2 separate regions of the Homo sapiens genome follow, and region 1 is linked to region 2. A link means that fine-mapping ties the variant in region 2 to the expression of a gene that starts in the linked region. Tissue or cell type: subcutaneous fat. Region 2 holds a variant in brackets; the other region holds the start of a gene. All regions are shown on one strand. Distances are from middle to middle.

Region 1 (8,106 bases), 46 kb after region 2:
CCCGGGAGCTGGAGTAAGGCGGTGGGGACGCCTCGGCACTGGCTGAGGACACAGGGTCTGCGGGGCTTTTCAGGCCTCAGTGAGGCCTTCTGCTCTTACATAGACTGGAATAAATAGCCACAGGAAGTTTAGACCAATTACAGATGAAATTTCCAGAATATGAGACCATCCTCACTACCCGCCCTGTCCTTTTGGTCTTCCCTGAGGAGTCTTCAGCCCAACCCCAGCCCCAGCATCTGAACCACAACCCCGGAGCAGGTGCTGCAGTCATCCCGTGGCCCAGATGGAGACTGTGTCCTCCAATGGAGGGAGACACAAAACACTCAAAATAATCCACGCAGAAGAGTGTCCGATGTGGTGATGGATGCGGAGACAGTGAAACCTGAATAATGTGATAGAGAGTGACGGGCAGAGAGAATTTCAGATGGGGGTGGGAGGGCACGGGAGACATCTCTCAGTCTAGACCCGAAGGAGGAAAAAGGGACAGGGTCACGATCATTTAGGGACATAGGGTAAAAGCAGGGACAACGACCCGTGACAGGAAGGGTTTTGACATTTGGGAAAAGAGAAAAGCAAATGTGACTGGTGCAGAGGGAGTCATGAGATGAGGGCAAGCTCCCAGGAGGAGGCTGGACACTGGCAGGGGCCCTGGACACAGGGCTGTGGAGCCACAGTGAGGAGTTGGGCTTTTGTCCTGGGGAACACAGGAAGCTGGTGGAGGGTTCCCTGCCAGGGACTGACGTGACCTGCTTTAGATTTCTCTGTGATGTCCTCATACAGAGAAAGGCCCCGAAGATGGTCTCTGTGTCTGAGTCCCTGCTTCACATTCTTGTTTTCATTTTTAGAGGAAGAAATCCAAATAAAAATTTTAATTGCAACTGGCTAGTCCCCCCACATACAACTGCCAAACACAAATGCACACCCAATTTTGCCCCAAATTTCAGGAGTCAGTGTTGCTCACATTGAGGTTTTCTGGTCTAGTCCCTTATCTCTGTTACAGGTGGGCTCACTGAGGCTGAGAGAGGGAGTCATTTCACCAAGTTATCCTGAGAGGTCTGAGTTGAGTGAGAAGGAGGAGATGTGGCTGAATTATGATGTCACGACCTGGAAGGGCCAATGGGCTGTGTTTGCCTTTATCACATCTCCCTTAGAAAATTCCAGGACTGGCCAGGCATGTTGGCTCGTGCCTGTAATCCCAGCACTTCGAGGCTGAAGGAGGGGAGATTACTTGAGGCCAGGAGTTTGAGACCAGCCTGGCCAACATGATGAAAGCTCATCTCTATCAAAAAACACAAAAGTTAGCCGGGTGTGGTGGCCTGTGCCTGTAATCCCAGCTACTCAGGAGGCTGAGGCAGGAGAATCGCTTGAACCCGGGAGGCGGAGGTTGCAGTGAGCCGAGATTGCACCACTGTACTCCAGCCTGGGTGAGAGAGCAAGACTCCAGCTCACAAAAAAAAAAAAAAAGAAAAGAAAAAAAGAAAATTCCCAGACCCTCTTTCACATATCTGAGCAAAAGAAACTTCTTCAAGGTTTTATCACATTGGTTCCAAATGCAGCTCACAGCTTACTATTTTAACAAATTACACAAAAGAAGAAAATTGAATAATAGACTAGTTAAACTAGGTTTCCATGTTAAGGTAAAAACATCATTGACATCTTTATCAGGTACACATTGAAACAATCTAAAATTACCTACTAGTCAACAAATAATGCTTCTATTATATAATAAAGAGCAGAAAGCATGCAGACCTCTATCAAAACTGGACACAATTAATTTCAAAGGGAAAGATTTTGAAATTGTTAAGAAATATCTGATGAATTTTGGAGCTAAAAAAATTGAAAACACATTATATTTAGAAAATGCCATGAGCTGATTATAGGATGCCACCAAAGTTACTTTGGAAATAATTATATACAGAAAAATAGAAACTGAATTAATGAAGATCTATCTCAAGTTGCAAAATGAACTATACATGAGATGAAAGGGAATTAGTAAGAAAAAAAGCAAATCAATTACAAAAAGCAACAACACTTTTTTTGTTTGTTCTTTGTTTTTTTTTCAGACGCAGTCTTGCTCTGTCACCGGATCTCGGCTCTTGGCTCACTGCAACCTCCGCCTCCCGGGTTTACACAATGCTTTGCCTCAGCCTCCTGAGTAGCTGGGATTACAGATGCGTGTCACCATACCTGGCTAAGTTTTGTATTTTTAGTAGAGATGGGGTTTCACCATCTTTGCCAGGCTGGTCTTGAACTACTGACCTTGTGATTCACCCACCTCGGCCTCCCAAAGTGCTGGGATTACAGGCATGAGCCACCATGCCCAGCCTCAACACTTTTAATGTTCCTTTTGAGCAACGTTGTCCAATCCGCAGCCCAGGAAGGCTTTGAATGCAGCCCAACACAAATTCCTAAACTTCCTTAAAACATTTTGAGATTTTCTTGCAACTTTTTTTTTTTTTTTTTTTTTTTTTTTTAGCTCATCAGCTATTGTTAGTGTTAGTGTACTTTATGTGTGGCCCAAGACAATTCTTCTTCCAATGTGGCCCAGGGAAGCCAAAAGATTGGACACCCCTGCTTTAGAGAGACACTATGTAGTGACAGTCTTTCACTTTCTGCCCAGCTTTACTCTCCCACTCCCCCTTCCCCTCCCCCTGCCCCAACGCCAGGGAAGGGGAAGAGGATGACCTGTGGAATTAATGAGTCAAGTCACTTCCCTCTGCCTTAACAGGGATTGCAAGTGGAAGCTAACTTCTGATGCCATAATTATAAAATGCACCAGCCTTAATAGACAGGAGCTTTGCAATTCTCATCATCTGTGCATTTTAAACTTATAAAGACAGAAATCAACAGGTCAAAAGGTAGTCATCACATCCAGTCAGTTCACAACTCACCTGGACCTGGGGTCCCCCTCTTTCCTCATTATGGTGTGTTTCCCTCCCTCGTTCCGTACATCGCTCTCATTCTCACCTTCTTTCTCTAGCTCTTTCCTTCCCCTTTATTTTCTCCCTAGGATTCTGCTCATTTTGAGCCCCTCTCCTCTCCTGCTGCTCCTCCCCGTCTTCCCTCTATTCTTTCTCTTCCACTTGCTCTTTCCATTCTTGCAATGTATTTAATTCCTCTTTCTTCCTAATCTTTTCATTGTCCCAGTCTCCACATATTTCTGGCTCTTTCTTCCCCATTTCAGCACTCCCTGTTAAATTCCCTCTTCCCTGTTACACACCGTTGTCCCCACTCTTTGGCACCCCCAGATCCCAGGCCTCCCCGTGCTGTGGTTCTCCCTCTGCTTCTCCTTGTCATCGGCTGCCCCCTCTTGCTGTCCCGGTACCACACTGCCCTGTCTGCCCTGGCTCCAAATCCCTTCTGCTCTCCCCCACTCTCTGTCTGAGGAGCCTCCTCCTTTGCTGCCCCTCTCCCTACCTGGCTGTCCTTCATCTCTCTGGATACTGTGCTTTTTCTCGAAATGTGTCTAGTTACTTTTCTCTCCCTGCTACTTTCTCGGCTTCTTCTTCCACTCTTACTGTCTCTGAAAATCTCTAACCATCCTCTACTTTGCCATCTGTTTATTGGTTTGCCTCATTCCTTCCTGTCTCAGGTTTTCTACTGCTCTCTCTGTCCCTCGATCCCTTTGGCCCACACATTCACAGGACGGTTTGGGGTAAGACGCCTGCATCCTGGAGGAGCGCATTTTCCACGGGGTGGAGGAGGGCAGGCAAGAACATCGGGTGTCACAGGACAGGCCCTGAGCACCTCCCCAGCGCGGGCTCAGGGGAGGCCTGGGGAGCAGCGGGGCCCGGCACGAGGAGGAGGGAGGTGGGGCGCGACAGCGCCTTCAGACAGGGGTGGGGTCTGCAGGATCCCAGGACCAGGCAGAGGACGCAAGGCTCCCCGGGACTGCGGCTGCAGCTGCGGCGCTGCGCTCCAGGGGCCGACGAGGGCAAGGCTGGGAGGCACCCAGGACGGGAATACACCTCTTGGGTGAAGACTTTAAAAAGCCCGGGGATGGGGGAGGGGGTCAGGAAAAGGTTTTAAGCGGGAGGAAGAAGCAAAAGGCCGGGGACGGGGAGCAGCCTCAAAGCGACTTCAACCCAAAGGGAAGCGACTCCGGACCCACACTGCGAGGCCTGTATTCACCTGGGGTGGAGTGTACGGGGATTTTAAGGGCCGTATCGACCCTGGACATCGGCTGTGGAAATGGGAAACAGGGAGCGCAGGTTTAATCTACACAGAGGGTCACTCACGCTCGACGCCGTCACCTTCACCCAACGCGATCCGTTTCCGGGCCTGTAGGAAACTGCGCATGCGCGGAGAGAAGAGCCCGGGCAGCCTGAAGGAATGGCTGGAGTGGGCGGGGTCTGCGCCGCTTTAAGGTAAAAAAATCAGAGTTGTGTGGGCCACTTATGGTGGAAACCAAAATGTTTTCCACTTACCAAGTTGAAAACGGTTTATGTTAAAACTATTTTGCCTGCAGGTTGGACCCGATCCTGCTAGGGAGTCTCCTGCAGCTTAGCAGTCCGGGAACTGGGATTTCGGTGGGGAATCCAAAACTAGCAGTGATTGGATCCATAAAAGTTACCAAAAAACAAAAATGAAGTGTCTGGAATCACTCCACTGGATTTCAAGACTACCAATATAGGAAAGGTAATAAAAACTGTGTGGTTTTGGGGCAATAAAAGACATATGGATTGATGCAATACAGTAAGAGAGTACAAAAATAGCCTCTACAGGTACTTCCAACTGATTTTTGACAAAGTTACCAAGGGAATTGAATGAAGAATTTTTAAAAACTGGTGAGGGGCTAACTTAATATCCACAGCAGGAAAGAAGTCATCTCTACTCAAACTTCACAACCGTACAGACATTAGTTCAACATTGACCATAGCCTAAATGTAAAATATCAAACCATAAAATGGTATCCTGTAGGAGACTGAAAGAAAAAATTACTCACAATAAAATCGTAAGAATCAAGAGCTTGTTCAAAAATTCTTAGCCATAGCAGCAAAAGCATGATTCATTAAAGAAAAAAAAAATCAACTGGTATTTACCAAATTAAAAACTTTTGGTCTGTGAAAGACCTTCAGACGATGAAAGAAAAGGTATTTGATATGGTTTGGCTCAGTGTCCCCATCAAATCTCATTTTCAAGTATAAACCTCAGGTGTTGAGGGAGGGACCTGGTGGGAGGTGACTGGATCATGGGGGTGGTTTTCCCCAAGCCGTTCTCATGATAGTGAGCTCTCAGGAGATCTCATGGTTTAAAAATCTGTGATAGTTCCTCCTTTGATCGCTCTCTCTCCTGCTGCAAGCAAGACGTGCCTTGCTTCGCCTTTGCCTTCCTCTATGATTGTAAGTTTCCTGAGGGCTCCCTAGCCATGCGGAACTGTGAGTCAATTAAACCTCTTTTGTTTATAAATTACCCAGTCTCAGGTTGTCACAGGAGGGTTTAGGCAGTGTGAAAATGGACTAATACAGTACTGAATAATAGAAAATATTTGCCTACCATATATCTGACATAAAACTGGTATGTGGAATGTATAAAGAATCCTAGAACGACTTAAAAAAAAAGCAAAATAATCAAATTAGAAAATGGATAGAACTATGAAGAGACATTTCACTGAAGCAGATATACTGAGATAAATGGGCACATAAAAAGATTTCCAACATCACCATCCATCAAATCTCAGACCTCAGCATATTCTGCTTTCTCCATGTGAACCCCTGGATGCTGTCAGAGATCATGAGAAACACAGGAGCTTCTACTGAACAGTCCAGTTGATGTGTATTAGCAACCTGTAATTGTTTTTGGAAACGAACAATGGAAACACAGATACAAAAATATTCTCAGCTCAAGAAATATGCACTTTGTCATTATTAGTGATTTTTTTTTTTTTTTGAGACAGAGTCTTGTTCTGTCACCCAGGCTGGAGTGCGGTGGTGTGATCTCAGCTTACTGTAACCTCTACCTCCCAGGCTCAAGCGATTCTCCTGCCTCAGCCTCTTGAGTAGCTTCAACCACACGCACGCGCCACCACACCCAGCTATTTTTTGTATTTTTAGTAGAGATGGGTTTTCACCATGTTGGCCAGGCTGGTCTCCAATTCCTGACCTCAGGAGATCCACCCCCCTTGGCCTCCCAAAGTGCTGGGATTACAGGGGTGAGCTACAGCGCCTGGCCACCACTAGAACTAACACCTCAGGTACTGGATGCCTCCTTCGAAAGATTGGATAATCGTTCTTACAGGATTATGTGGTAATGAGTGTCTCTGTCATTCATTTAGGTAAGATGCATACGCAATAGTGATCTATAAAATATAGACTTAATTGATCTATAAAAATATAGATTTAATACAAAGTTACCACAATCACAATGATATATGAAGATAAACCATTTAAAAATTACAAGAGATACTAACAAAATAGGTATAGATGGTGAGTAAAGGACAAAAATAACTAGCATTGTTACTGTAGCATCATCATTAAAAGCTTTGTCTTTGCAACCAGACAACATGGATTCAAATCTCGATTCTGCCTCTTACTGAAATGTGACAAGATGAGTCTTTTAAAGCAGAATATGCTGAGATCTGAGATTTGATGGATGGTGATGTTGGAAATCTTTTTATGTGCCTATTTATCTCAGTATAACTGCTTCAGTGAAATGTCTCTTCATAGTTCTACCCATTTTCTAAATATATATATATATATATATATATATATATATATATATATAGAGAGAGAGAGAGAGAGAGAGAGAGAGAAAGAGAGAGAGAGAGAGAGAGAGAGATGGAGTCCCGCTCTGTCACTGAGACTGGAGTGCAATGGTGGGAACTCGGCTAACTGCAACATCCGCCTCCCAGGCTCAAGCAATTCTCCTGCCTCAGCCTCCCGAATAGCTGGGATTACAGGCGCCCGCCATCACACCCAGCTAATTTTTGTATTTTTAGTAGAGACGGGGTTTCACCATGTTGATCAGGCTGGTCTCGAATTCCTGACCTCAGGTGATCCCCCCGCCTCGGCCTCCCAAAGTGCTGGGATTACAGGCATGAGCCACTGTGCCCAGCCTAATTTGATTATTTTGCTTATCTGTCCTAAGTTTCCTCACCTCTGAAATGAGAATATCATTAATACTTATTTCAGGAGCTGATGATTCAGTTGTTACACATAAAGCATTAATAACTGTGATTCTTACTCTAAATGTGATTGATATAAAATATATATGCAAAGATAAATCACTTATTAAAGAATATATATCAGTTTTTTAAAATGGAAACAAATCTAAGGGGAGTATATTAAATGGCAGCTGTCATTGCAAAAGTTGCACAAATATCATGTTTTGCTGTAAGATCCTCTGGCTCAGAAAAGAAATACCAGCCACAGTAGGAAGTTGAATTGCCTCCAGGGATTCAATGAGAGAAATTATCTCCTTTGCATAAATGATAATTAATATCTTGGGGACTCTCTTATTAACTGTATTTTCATTTACTTCTCCAGATGCTGGTTAACCTCCACACGCTTGATTTTCAAGCATCTGATCTTTGATAACTTCCATATTAAGAGACTTCATTTCACCATCTAGTATCCCTGTACTTTAATTGAACTAAAGATTTACAAGGACACTCCATTTTCCTATTTACAGAGAACCTAGTCTGTACCTGCCATTGTTTTACATACATTTTCATGTCACAAAATTTTATTTCTAAACAACACCCTCATTTATGTATTTTCTAAGTGTTCACTGGAGTAACACAGAGAAGAAATGCAGTAAACATATAATTTGGATTAAAATGTATGGAAGGAAAAAATCCTTAAAGTAAAAATCATATACAAAAACAAAAAGTCATTTTACTACTATTGGCTCATGGCTGTAATCCTAGCACTTTGGGAAGCTGAGGCAGGAGGAATGCTTGAGGCCAAGAGTTCAAGACCAACCTGGCCAACATAGCGAGACCCCACGTCTAAAAAGAAAAAGAAAAAAAAAAAGAAAAGAAGCTATGGAGAATATGTTACACAATACCATAAACTGAACAAGACATGAATATAACACAGCCTTTGGAAAAATGCCCTTTGGCTAAAATTGCTTGATCATATTATGTAATAAACTTTTCCACAAATT
Region 2 (8,106 bases):
CACAGGTTGAGGGTTCAGTCCCACTTCGGGCGCCAACAGCAAGCCCCAGGTTGTTTTTCCTGTGCTTTTGACAGACTGACTATTAATCAGGGTTCCTGTAACTCCCTCATTGGGTTCAATTAATTTGCTAGACCTCACAGACCTCAGGGAGACACTTTATGTACATTTACCCATTTATTATAAAGGATATTACAATGAATACATATGAAGAGATGCATACAGTGAAGTATTGGAAAAGGGGTTGGAACTTCCATGCCCTCCCTGAGTATGCCACCCTCAGGAATCTCCACGTGTTCACCTAAACTGAAGCTCTCTGAACCATGTGCTTTTGTGTTTTCATAGAAACTTCATGAAGTAGGCATGATTAAACCATTGGCCACTGGTGATCAACTTAACCTTCGTCGCCTCTCCCCCTCCCTGGTAGCTGAGGAGTGGAGTTTAAAGCCCCAATCTTCCAATCTTGCCTTGGATATTCTGGCAACTCAGGCCCCATCCTGAAGCTTGTTGGAGGCTGCCAGCTATCAGTCAATGCATCAGCATGCAAAAAGACAACACTTAGGAAACTCTATAGATTTTAGGAGCTGTATATGCCAGGAACTGGGTCAAAGACAAAGGCCATGTGAACAATCCACTGGTAGATAAAGATAAAGCATACCATTTCATTTCGTTAAGGCCTTCCAAAATAAGATAAACTGAACAAATAATTGAGAAAGGGGTAAGCAACGAAAGATTATTTTTACAGTAGAATAATGTGTAATCGAAAGGAAGACAACAGTGCGTATATAAAGAATTAAACCAAGCCGGGCACAATGGCTCATGCCTATAATCCCAGCACTTTAGGAGGCACAGTCAGGAGGATGGCTTGGGCCCAGGAGTTTGAGACCAGCCTGGGCAACATAGTGAGACCCTGTCTCTACAAAAAACAAAAACATAAAAAATTATCTGGGTGTGGCAGCACACAACCGTAGTCCCAGCTACTCAGGAGACTGAGGTGGGACAATTGCTTAGGCCAAGGAGGTCAAGGCTACAGTGAGCCATGACTGTACTGTAACCAAGTACGCTCATTTTTCTAAGAAAAAGGGAGTGAGTTATTATTTTTTTCTCTTATTTTCTCCTTTCCCCATTTTCCCCTGTTCCCTACTTCCTACTTAGCCCTTTAGAAATACACTTATAACCTTTTACCTCCCCTTCAGCAGACACTCTCTACAGGGCAAGTTCATCCAACTATGTGCTTCGAGCTCCAGAGGGGAATCTCACTTGCCAGGAGGTTACCTCGAGAAACAGCAATCAATCTACAACCCAAAGTCCTGCTACAAAACTCTCTCCCACCCGGAGAGTTTCAGCCACTTTTACAACCCAGTTCTGCCCACGAAGGCACCAGTGGCTGCCAGCTCAACCCCCTGGTACGTAAGGCACAGAAGCAAGTTAGGGGGACACCCACCTGCTCGCTTCCTCTCCTTAGTGCCATTCATGCCAAGCCCGCCTTTTAAAAGCGCCTGCTTTCTGCTCCAAAAGCAATGCAGTACCTTACGGCAGGAAGCCTGTACTTCTTCCCCTAAGCTAGCTTTGGAATAAAAAGTCACTGTCTTTCTACCAGACCTTGCTCTTGTTAACTGGACTCTGCAAGCAGCGAGCAACTGAACCTGCATGTCAGTGACAGAGCCGCCGTGCTCCGGCCTCGCTCCAGCAACAGGGTGAGACCCTGTCTCAAAAAATGTAGTAAAAGTTAAAAAGAAAATAAACCGCAGAATACAACACAGCTCCTGAATTCCAGGAACAGAAAATGGAGCAAAGTATAAAAATTCATTTCATATATACACATCCACAAAGTAATGCAACCCACTCAGACTCACAAGGAATAAGAAAATGAAAATAAAATGGGTTGCATTATCCCCGCATTTTCATAATATAAAATGAACACAGTGGCAAGTTTGCTTAATGAGGGGGAAATCTGACGTGGCATTGGTGGGAGAGGGCACCTCTGCACCTGGGGTAGGGATAGAATCTTGCCAGATCTAGCAACACAGGAAATGTGCCATCCTAGAAGAGATCACTCTTCCAATCGTCCAGCCTGGAGGAACTCTCCACGATCCATAGTGAAGTCGGCATGGTCACAGGCAGCCAGGGTGGCACCTTTTTTTTTTTTTTTTTTGAGACAAGGTCTTGTTCTATCACTCAGGCTGAAGTGCAGTGGCACTATCATGGCTCACTGCAGCCTCAATCTCTGGGGCTCAAATGATCCTCCCACCTTGGCTTCCACAAGTGCTGGGATTACAGGTGTGAGCCACCATGCAGCACCCTGTGTGGCATTCTTTATAGAAGTGAGAAAGTTAAAAGATCCACCTGTCTTCATTCCCAGCATGCTCCAACAAGGATGTAGAAAAGTGAGCTCCTGTTTCCTAACACGAAAACATGTCAATGTTCAAAACTTGCAGGTTAACATATCACAACCAAACATTCACTGAGGAATTTGTTTAAATCTCATAATGATGTCAAAATACATTTCTACAGGACTTGCACTGACCCTTCCCACAGAATTGAGAACAGTGGCTCCCCACTAAGATGTGAGGGAGGGTGGAAGGCTGGACAGGAAAAGGGATGCTTTACCTCTTGGCACATAAATGTATCATTTCACTATAAAAGAAATATATACATGATGCCATGTTCAAAATAAAAGAAACAAAATGTTGACTCATAACTGGTAAAACAAAAATACAGTTCCATTCTCTCTAATGGCAAGGTTGTTCTGCTTATATGCCATTCTCACCTACAATACCCGACGGACAAAGGTTCTTGTAAGAACATCACAGTCTCCATGGGATAGAGCTTCTGAGACTAGTTTAATGAATCTTGTTACACATTTATGTTGACGTCATACATTAAAATGGATGATGGAATGAAAGAATCATCTATCTCCAATGTCAGTGTCTAAACTTTCCATTCTGTTCCCAGTCTTTACGAGTTTGGAGTCGGAAATCCAATGACTCACTTGTTCGGCTTCAAATGCAGTTACCAATGAGGCAGGAAAGCTTTCCCCTTAGTGTTCTTTTCTATGCCAGTGAGCAGGTACGTGTGCACCTGACTTCATGGGCAGCTTCTGTTATCATGGTTTACACAGCGCTGACAGTGCATCCAGATGCGGCCCCTGAGCAATCCCTGCTGCCCAACAGCACTGACACCACAGGACCCTCACCCCGTCTCCATCCATGTCTGGGTGTGAGCCCTTCCCAGGACCATGCCCAGTGCAGCCTCTTCCCAAGTTCATGTCACTGGATCACGGGAGATGGAATCTAAACGAGATGAGAGGGACTGAGGGAAGGCGCGGGTGAGTGCTAGCAAACATGTCAGGCAGGACGCTTCAGACTCAGAGAAGATTCGCAATGCCAATGCCAGGCATTTCAGGAAGAAATAAAAGAACAATCCACCAGGAGTATCACTTTACCTGAGTAAGGGCCATCCCTGACTCCTTTTCTTTCCTCTTCCTCTTCTTCCAGACTTCTTCCTTGGGTAACATAAAAGAGTCTTTAGAAGTCAATACTGAATATCCAAAATATGCTGCTTAGGGCTGAGAATCTATACATCCCCTTCATGTGCCACAGTCACACGCACAGATCTCACCCTGTGGAAAGATGGTCCTCTGCGCCCCACTGCACCAGGGGGAATACGGGGACGAGAAACTCCTACAGGAAGAAGTGAGTTTCTGACCCCTTTCTTCAGAACCCACCTTCCTCCTGGAGAAGCCCACACACACTGCAGCAGTGGGGAGCTGGGCTGGACTGAGCTCCCCTTTAGGACACAGACCCAGCCCTGACCAAACCCCATGCAGAACACAGCCCCCCTCACCTCTCTGTGGATCCCAGGCTGAGCTCAGCCTTCAGAAACAAAAGACAGTGATTGGTACTATGCTGGCTACAGAATAGAGTCAACTTTAAATATTACTCAGCTGGGCTCTAAAACACTGAAATGAAAATACGTCAAGGGGGCACAAGAGATGTTTCTGCAAAACGCCTAGGCACTCTAATATGAAGCCAGGGTTGAGCTCCACTGAGGGGGTGAGCCCAGCACAGCCCCACCTTCTGGCTCTGCTCTCCTGTTGGGGACTTGTTCTCACCAGGATCCAGACTGGATATTGAAGGAGCAAAAAGAATCACACAGAACAGGCAACATGGACCAGAGGTGGGGGTGAAGGTGGGCCTGCAATGTCAAATAGGAGGCTGTGGGAGATCACAAACGTTTCCACGGAGGAAGTGATGTCAGAACAAAGACCTCAGGAAGAAAGGCTGCTTGTCACTTGCAGCTGAGAGGCCAGGGAGTTCTAGGCAGAGGGCCAGCCCACATGGAAGCCTTGAGGCAGGAGCAACCTTGGCTCCAGGAAAAGGAAAGGGGCCTGTGTGACTGGAGCAGAGGGGGCTGGGAGGACACAGGAAGGAGATG[G/A]CGTCTGAGAGGTCCTGAGGGTGCAGATCACGCAGGGAGAGGTCTTCAAACATTCTTTCTCCCATACGTCAAAAAAATTTATGAAACCATGTATTTCCTCACCTGTTTTAAGTAAATGCTTAATTTTTTCTTCATTTTACAAAGTAACACACTTACAACATAGTATCTTGCATATTTTAAACATGACAAGAAGTTCAGCTGAGCCCCAGGAAGTACAGGGTTGCCCTTAGCTGAGATGTGCAAGACTGCAGGGGTGAATATGTTTGGAGGAGTTTGGGAAGTCACTTTTATTTAAATAATTAATTAATTAATTTTTGAGAGAGTTTCACTCTTGTTGCCCAGGCTGGAGTGCAGTAGCGTGATCTCGGCTCACTGCAGCCTCCGCCTCCTGGGTTCAAGCGATTCTCCTGCCTCAGCCTCCTGAGTAGCTGGGATTACAGGCGCCCGCCACCACGCCCGGCTAATTTTTTGTATTTTTAGTAGAGATAGGGTTTCGCCATGTTGGCCAGGCTGGTCTCAAACTCCTGGCCTCAGGTGATCCGCCTGCCTCGGCCTCCCAAAGTGCTGGGATTATAGGCATGAGCCACTGTGCCCAGCCAAGAAGTCACTTTTAGGCATATGAAAATGGAGATGCCTGTTGGGACATCCCTGTAGAGAGTTTTGGAGACAACTAGACACAGGATTCTAGACCTCAGAGGAGGGTCTGCAGGGTACATGGGGCTGAGTATTAACAGGTGGGGCATAAAGCCATGAGATGAGAAGTACGGAAAGGCAGTGGGTGTGGACGGAGACAAGAAGAGGTGTAAGGACTGAGCCATGAGCACTTGCACATTCAGAGAACAAGAAAGTTCTGGAGACACCAGAAGAGGAAAGCAGAAAGTGATCAGAGTGGCAAGAAGATTGAATAGATTTGTAAAGGTTAACGGGGTGTCATAAAAGCCAAGATAACAGAAGAGGAAGTGATCAGCTGTGCTACATGCTACCGACAGGAAGAAAAAGATGAGGACAGGACATGAATTACGGCATTTAGGAATTGGGAGGTCACTGATGACTGAAAAAGGAAGAATCAGTGGAATGCTGGATGTGAAAGCTAGATTCAAGCAACAATTCAAAGGTTTAAGCAATAATTGAAGACAAAGTGGCCGCACACGGCTCACGCTTGTAATCCCAGTACTTTGGGAGGTTGAGGTGGAAAGACTACTTGAGCCCAGGAGTTTGAGACCAGCCTGGCCAACACAGCAAGATCCTGTCTCTATATTTTTATTTAAAAAAAAAAAAAGAATTGAAGACAAAGTAAAACTAGTTTTTAGAATATTATGCTCTTAAATAGAGCACAAATAGGTACTTATTACAGAGGGAAATGTAGTTGAAAGTATTTTTTTGTCTTAAAGATGGAAGAGTAGAAGAAAAAAAGGCTTTATCATGCATTGGAGATCTGTTCAGAGAGGAAAAAAATTGTTCATACTACTCTGACACTCTAACACAGAATATTTCACCTCTAGTCACCAAAATGTGTGTCATTGTCCCCACAATGACAGCTTCTCCAGCAGACTCCCAGGTAGGGAGTCCTGCTGTTTTACTCAATTCTGACACCGTCTACAAAACAGAATCAGACACCACAGCTTGAGGGTTCAGTCGCACAGGACTGCCCTCACTTCATATGCTGTACGCTCTGACTGACCTGGTCAATGTGCTTCCCTAACACTTTCCTTGGGTTTGAATAACTAGCTAGCACAGCTTTTCCATCTGGCTGTTCATCTGTGTCCTTTGCAACATACTTTATAATAAATGAGTAAACTAAGTGTTGTCCTGAGTTCGGTGAATGACCGTGGCAAATTACTACAACCTGAGGAGGGGGGTCAAGTGAATCCCCAATTTACAGTTGGTCGCCCAGAAGTTCAGGTCCCAACCTGCAACTTGTGACCGGCATTTGAAGTGGGGGTAGCCCTGTGGAACTGACCAACCAGTAAACAGCATCTGATCCTAATTCTAGCTGGACAGTGTCAGAATTGAGTTGAAGTATAAGTTCACCCAGTTAGTGTCGGATGGAAAATGCATTGCTGGTGGGAAGAAGTTCCTCCACATTTTGGTGATGAGTTTTCTGTGTGGAGTGTTCACTATTACATTGACTGTACACTATTATATTGACTATAATCAGCATCATATAATACTAAATATTATGTAATCAGTATTACATTAACTCATGTTCTCGCCCCTACCCAACCCCATCCCAGGGAAATGGAGGAAGAGCGTGGCCCACAAATGAATGAGTCAAGTCACTGCCCTCTGGCTGAAAAGGTTACAAGTGGAAGCTAACCTCTGATGCCATAATTATAAAATGCATAGCCTTATAGACAAGTTTTGCAATTCTCATCTTTATCTGTGTATTTTAAGCATATTTAAAATCTGTTAGATTATAAAGACAGAAATCAACATGTCACAACTAAATTACCCATATTCAATCAACTCACCACTCACCTGAACCAAGGTCCCCTCCTTCTTCCTTCCTGTGTGTTTCCCTCTCTCATTCTGTACATATCTCATCCTCACCTTCCCTCCCTGGCTCTTTTTTTCCGATGTTTCCCCCCAGGTTTCTGCTCCTCATTTTGAGCCCCTCTCCTCTCCTGCTCTTTCTCCCCTTCTTCCCTCCATTCCTTCTCTTCCCCCTGTTCTGCTCCATTCCTACAACTTCTTCCACCTCTTATTCCTTTCTGCCCAAACTTTTCATTGTCCCAATCCCAATCTCCACATATTTCTGCCTCTTTCTTCCCTCATCTTTGCTCCCCCTCTGCTCCCCCTATTAAATCCCCTCTTCCCTGTTACACCCCTTGTCCCCACTCTCTGGCACCCCCAGATCCAAAGCCTTCCCATACTGTGGTTCTCCCTCTGCTCTCCTTGTCACCAGCTGTCCCGTCTTGCTGTCCCAGCACCACATTGCTGTCTGCCCTGACTCCAAATTCCTCCTCCTCTCCCCCACTCTCTGTCTGAGGAGCCTCCCCCTTTCTGCCCCTCTCCCTATCTTGCTGTCCTTCATCTCTCTGGAGACCCAGCTTTTCTCTATATTTCTCCAGTTGCTCCCTGCCCCACACTTTCTCAGCTTTGTCTTTCACTCTCAGTGTCTGTCTGCAAATTCCCCACCCATCCTCTGCGTTGCCATCTGTTCATGGTTCTCACCCGTCCTTCTCACTCCTTCTCAGTTTTTCTATTTCCTCTTTCTCCTGTCTCTCTTTCTCCTGATCCCCTGTGGCCACATATTTACAGGGAAGGGGATGGAATAAGATGCCCACCTACTGAAAGCACTTTTCCTAGTGGAGTGGAATCTGGGACAAAAGAACATTGGAGGTGAACAGACAGGCCCAAGTCACCTCCTTCAACGCTGGGTCAGAGGAAGCCATGCTTATGAGGGGGAGGCCTGCAGGATAGAGGGCAAGGCTCAATGAGAGCAAGATGGGAGGGTGTCTCAGGGGAGGGGTGGGATCTGTGGAATCCCAGGACCAGGGCGAGGACTCTCTTGCACCGGAGCTGCGGTGCTGCTGTGCAGACGCAATGAAGGGCGAGGCTTAGGGGACCCAAAGGGTGAATGCACCTCGCGGGTGAGGACCTTACAAGGCACAGGGTGGGAAGTGAGTAAAGGGTTTTAAGCAGGAAATGGCATGAAAGCTCTCTACATGG

Evidence for each region. PIP is the estimated chance that this variant, and not a neighbour inherited with it, causes the effect.
Region 1: ZNF415 starts here. The variant in region 2 is fine-mapped to the expression of ZNF415 in subcutaneous fat (GTEx, PIP above 0.99). The same link has a PIP of 0.9 or more in breast, lung, visceral fat and whole blood.

The regions. Positions count from the first base shown.
Region 1 is chr19:53,128,618-53,136,723 of GRCh38, forward strand. It overlaps ZNF415 (zinc finger protein 415), which reads right to left and starts at 4,293. Exons shown (of 4, transcript NM_018355.4): 1 at 4,239-4,293. ZNF347 (zinc finger protein 347) reads right to left here. Exons shown (of 5, transcript NM_032584.3): 5 at 6,318-8,106.
Region 2 is chr19:53,082,820-53,090,925 of GRCh38, forward strand. It overlaps ZNF160 (zinc finger protein 160), which reads right to left. Exons shown (of 6, transcript NM_001322131.2): 3 at 3,443-3,502. The coding sequence starts at 3,457. Among named protein-coding and RNA genes, the nearest start is that of ZNF160, 17 kb to the right of the region's middle. The variant G/A (reference allele first, on the strand shown) is at 4,435.